Linked DNA regions of Homo sapiens: region 1 is linked to region 2. The links come from fine-mapping of genetic effects on gene expression. A gene starts in region 2. The other region holds a variant in brackets. All regions are shown on one strand. Distances are from middle to middle.

Region 1 (2,914 bases), 27 kb before region 2:
GGCTGAAAAGAAAACGACTTTTCTGGGCCCTGATGACCTTCCCTCAGAAACACCACGGTGTCCTTCCGAGAAACTGGGAAGGCGATCCAGCTCTTTGTTTTTCTGGTAACAGGAATATCCAGGTATTGGCGCTGTTTTGCAAGTACCAACTTTATGCCCACAGGGAATGTCTGTTGTTTGGCCTTCCTGATATCTCTTTTTCCTGCTCAGATACCAGCACCCTAATTTGCCTTTGGGACACCAACCACCTTCCACTCGGGGTCCGCTTTGGGCTGATTGTCTCCTCACCTTGACCCAAGCCCAGCTAGAGGACAGAGAAAGAGAGAGTAGAGGAGAGAATCCGATTGGCCCAGCCGGAGCCAGGAGCCTAGCTTGGTCCAATCAGCTCCCGCCAGAGATTAGTACAGATAGTGGTTAGTGAATGGGCAGAGAACAAAGCTGGGTCATGTGATGTGAGATTGAACCTCTGTGACTCTCTCACACCATCAGGAAGCTTTCACGGTAATCTCTGCCTCTTTTATCTGTGGATAAATGGAGAAGGGGGTACAGCAAGTTTTCATCATCCTGGGGAATCAATGCATACCACCACTGGGAAGACAGAAGACCCTTGCATGCACCTTGGGAACCAAGACTGGGCCTCAGAGACCCCAAGCCTTGTGGTTGAGGCTCATTGGTGTTCATTCCAGACAGACCTGGATTTGAACCTCGATCCCACCACTTTCCAAACCTCTTTCCTTGGACAAGTCCCTTCACCCCTCTGAACCTTAGTTCCCACATCTGTAGAATGGAGATGGCAATGAAACCCACCTTGTGGGAATGGGGTGAAAAGCAGCATCATTCCAGGTATATGCAGCATTGGTGGGTACTAGGGGGACAGAGAGCAAAAGTTTTTATTTTAATAGTTATGCATTTATTTTAAGGTTACTGTCTACTTTTGAAAAATATTACTGTCTACTGTTTTTTTCACTGATGGCAGTGCTCTAAAGTTCCTTTTCAAAATAAATTTATTGAAACAAAAAAGGAGCCAATTTAAAGAAAAATATTAAGTCAAAAGTAGTACAGATGAAACTTGGAAAACCTGGGAAGCAGAATTCAAATGACTGAAGTTTGAGAAACACTGAAATAATGCCCAATGCCTGGTACATAGTAGTTGCTCATTAAAAGTGTATAGATCAAGATGGATTGGTATTTTACACTGGCTGCAGGCAGCCTGGCCATGGCTAGATGGAAACGCATGAGTAGGGGCCAGGCGTGATGGCTCATGCCTGTAATCCCAGCACTTTGGGAGGACAAAACGGGTGAATCACTTGAGGTCAGGAGTTCAAGACCAGCCTGGCCAACATGGCAAAACCCCACCTCTACTAAAAATACAAAAATTAGCCGGGGGTGGTGCGTGCCTGTAATCCCAGTTACACTGGAGGCTGAGGCAGGAGAATCACTTGAACCCGAGAGGCAGAGGTTGAGGTTGCAAGTGAGCAGAGATCATGCCTTTGCACTCCAGCCTGGGTGACAGAGCCTGACTCAATCTCAAAAATAAAATAAAATAAAATAAAATAAAAATTTTTTAAAAAAGAAATGCATGAGTGGGAAGATGCCAGAGTCATGTGACCTTGTGGAGTAGATGCTCTGATGCCTGATAAACCTCAGCCAAGAAACAGCCCTTGGGGAAGCAGGAGAATTTA[C/T]ACACAGGAACAGGGGTGCGGCCAGTGCTCACGACAGAGGGAGACTAATAAGAGGGGATTCAAGTGGTTCTTATGGGAAAACATGAATCTCAGAGGAAATGATTCAAGAGAAGTCAGCCCCAGGGCAAGCCCTGGTGCTTGGAGTTGTGACTTCTGATCCCCATTTTGGATCTAGAAAACTTCCCACCTGAAATGCCTTGTCCCTCTTGACAGCTGTCATCATATCCGGCACACAGGAGGAAGAGGGAGCCCAGGGCAGGATCCTGCAAGATGAGCCCTTTAAGCTGCCATAGGAAGCCACAGGGACTGGCCATAACCAGTCCATTTTCCATCTGGAACTTGGAAATATGGTCTTTCCTAGAGAAGAATGTCAAAGCCTCAGATGGCATCTAGGGGGCTAGACAGGGAGATAAATGAATAAAGTTGGCAGGTTGAAACAATAATCCTGAGGATGGTGTTTCACTGGGCATGTGCCACACCCAAGGTGACAAATTTAGTAAGTTGCTATGCAGGTCACATAAGATCCTGCATGTAAGTGCCTGGCACAGTGCCTGGCATCCAGACGATATGCAAGAAATGGTAGCTATTATGATAATTGTTGTCCATCAGCCTAAGGGAGAGTCCTAAACCAAAGACTGAAAAGCCCTGGAAAGTCCAATATCCTGTTATTTTCTGACTGTAATACACAAAGAAATGTGCTAAGAGGAGCTAGGTGTTGGAAGGAAAGAACTGTTCAGTGGTTAGAGGAATGCCCAATTTCTATTCTTTCTCTGATGAATTCTACAGCCTTCTCCAGCAGTAAAATTGAGATTTTTTTTTAAAAGATAGATTTAAAACTACTTTAGTGTTTTAAAACCCTGCTACCATCTGAATGAGGGAGTATTACGACAATGGAGTATTAGGACAATGCAGTAGCACTTGAAGCCAAAAAATAAATTAAACTGATAAATTACTCAGTGTTCTTGAATGTATTGAGAGATTTATAAGAATAGCAGAGAGCCTGGGGTGAGTTATTGATAAGAACACAGAAGACAAAAAAAAAGAGGCAATGGCTAACTCTAGGAAAAACAAAATGTTATAGTCATAGCACACGAAGTGGCCCAGTTGTGAATAATATAAACAATCATCAGGCTGGGCATGGTGGCTCCATGCCGGTAATCCCTGAACCTTGGGAGGCTGTGGTGGGAGGATTGCTTGAGCCTGGGAGGTCAAGCCTGCAGTGAGCCATGATT
Region 2 (2,914 bases):
TTCTTCCTTTTTGTCTCTGTCTCTCTTCCCTCTTACCTTGTTCTATTTTCCTATTTTACTCCATAGAAGGTATCAACTTCTAACCTCCTAGGTCGTTTGCTTATTTATTACGTTTGTCATCTAAGACCTCCTGCCCACCGGCCCCCAGCAGGAAGGACTGCTCCAGGAAGGCAGGAATTGGAATTTGTGTCTGTTTTGTTCCCTGTTGACTCCCAGGGCTTAGAACAAGGCTTGGCACACAGTAGGAGCTCAGTAAATATTTGAGTAGTGAATGAATGAAATCTAAACAAGCAAATGGTTTTCCTTTATGAAGACTTTATTTCATCCTCACTCTTCTGATTTTCAGAAGCAGCAGCACGGATGAGACGGGTCTGGCAGGCTTGGCGGGGGACAGGTGGGAGGAAAGATGTTCCTCGCCCTCTCCAGATTCCGCGCCCTTGGTTCGCCAGCGGGAAGCCGTGGCTGCGCGGAGCCGAGGTAGCACCGCCCCCTGCTGGGCAGTTTGGAGAAATGCAGCGCGGACGCTCAGCGATTGGGCCAGATACATTTCAAACAAGTACACCTGGGAATTTGGAAAGGAACAGGATGGAAAGGTCATCGGGGGTGAGGCAGCCAGATGGATCTGCGGGAGGCCTTTTCAGAAAGGAAGAGGAGCCGAGAAAAAAAATGCAGCCCATTCTCTCAGCTGCAGGACCCGGATTCAAGCAGAGTCCGCGTCTCGCAATGAATGGGTTTCTCCTGTTGAGGCCAAGGCTGACCGTGATGGAAGCCAGGTGCAATTCAAGGCCAACTCCCAGGGATCTCTTTTTGGAATTTCTGGTTTCCCTAGGTTTCCTCGCAGGTTTTGTGGTGAGCATGTATCCTTTTATCAAACCCACCCCACAAAACCAGAATTTCAAAACAAGTTTTTACCCAGCCTTTTTAACAAATGTGCACATGCAGTTTCAGAAAGAGGAAATGTATTAGTGTATTAGTCCATTCTCACACTGCTATAAAGAACTACCTGAGACTGGGTAATTTATGAAGAAAAGAGGTTTTATGGACTCACCGTTCTGCAGGCTTAACCAGCAGTATGACTGGGAGACCTCAGGAAACTTACACTCATGGCGGAAGGCAAAGGGGAAACAAGCACCTTCTTCACATGGTGGCAGGAGAGACAGAGAGAGAAGTGAGGAGAGCTCTATCACGAGAATAGCAAGGGGGAGGGGGAGCTCCGCCCCCATGATACAATCACCTCCCACCAGGCCCTTCCCCCGACAAGTGGGGAATACAATTGGAGATGAAATTTGGGTGGGGACACAGCCAAACCCTATCAATTAGCCAAGTCAAGATTGTTCATTGACTCGACATTTTTACTGTGAATTTACTGTGTGCCAGCCACGGTTCTTGGTGCTGGGGCTACAGCAGCAAAACAGACAGACAAAAACCTCAGCCTTTATGGAGCCGATATTACAGTAAAAGAGACAAGTCCCTAACGCACAAATAAATGAAAATACCTGACTAAAAACTAAGGTAAGTGCCCTGAAAGAGAAAAACAAGGTGTTACCAAAAAAATTTTAAAAAGAGCAGACTTCAATTTTGGGAATCCACACCGAAGACATGAGATTTAATCTGAATTCCTCTCCCAGGAGCCAGGGGCAATCTACGGGGAGAAAGGAATAGCAAGAGAGAAGCTGGAAGTTTCCAGGCTTTCAGTCTTAATTCAGTATCCCCCAGAGAAGAATAACTTGTCCCTTTTAGTAGATGTTTGCTCTGTAGTAAAAGGACAGCATAGGAGTCTAGAATCAGAGTCCTGGGTTCAATTCCTGGCTCTGCCCCCTTCCTTAGTTTCTATTTCCTCTGTCCCTTAGAGTTATTATAAGGATTTAATGAGATAATAGAGATGTAGCTATGGACACAGCAGCTGGCAAATAGTCAATAAGTAGTCATCATTGTTTAAAGGCTCTGAGAAGATCTGCAACTGGGGAACCTGTTGAACTAGACTCTCTTGTTGGCTACAGAAAATTTTTTTTTTTTTTTTAGACAGAGACTCACTCTGTCGCGCAGGCTGGAGTGCAATGGCATCATCTCAGTTCACTGCAACCTCCGCCTCTCAGGTTCAAGAGCTTCTTCTGCCTCAGCCTCCCAAGTAGCTGGGATGACAGGCATGCGCCACCACACCCAGCTAATTTTTGTATTTTTAGTAGAGACAGAGTTTCACCATGTTGGGCAGGCTGGTTTCGAACTCCTGACCTCAAATGATTCGCCCACTTCTGCCTCCCAAAGTGCTGGGATTACAGGCGTGAGCCACCACGCCCAGCCTATAGAACCATTTTGTTGCAGGATATTGTGTGCTGTACCATATATATTGGGGAAATATTACTTCAGTTACTGGGGGTGTGGGTGGAGCAGACATTATTCATTGCCTACCCCAAGTCCATTTGCTGTCTTTTTTCTTGCTAATAGAACTCTGGTTATGTTCAGGATTAGGCCAAAGAACCTTGGATGTCAAAGCAGGTAGGTCAGACTTGGTCTAGATGTGGGCGCCTTACCTTGTTCTGGCCAGTGAGATGTATGAAAAGTCTCCTAGGGGCTTCCCCATGAAGATATTGTCCTCCATAAGAAGTAAAGAAACATTTGCACCTGACCCCACCCCCACTGCCACCACCCCCGCCCCAGCTTCTGCTTTGAACGTAGTGTCGTGAGGACAGGACACTTGGCTCTGCTGCCACCATCTTGGGACCACAAGAGGGAACCCCCACAGAGTCACAGAGACAACTCTGGGGTCCCCAATCATGTCCAGCTACTGAACAACCGTGGAACTGTCTGTTCTCCAACTTCTTGAGAGAAAACGAACCCCCCGTTTGTTTAAGCTGCTGCTAATGGATTTCCATCACCTGCATCCCAGAACATTCCTCACTGATCCAGGGTCCCA

What was found.
Region 1: its variant is fine-mapped to the expression of VHRT in testis (GTEx, PIP 0.95).

What each region holds. Positions count from the first base shown.
Region 1 is chr12:110,962,207-110,965,120 of GRCh38, reverse strand. No RefSeq gene overlaps it. Among named protein-coding and RNA genes, the nearest start is that of LINC01404, 5.8 kb to the right of the region's middle. The variant C/T (reference allele first, on the strand shown) is at 1,683.
Region 2 is chr12:110,934,833-110,937,746 of GRCh38, reverse strand. It overlaps VHRT (ventricular heart development associated lncRNA), which reads right to left and starts at 1,145. Exons shown (of 2, transcript NR_036513.1): 1 at 1,049-1,145; 2 at 299-562. RefSeq lists a silencer at 288-582 and enhancers at 495-1,188, 1,189-1,882.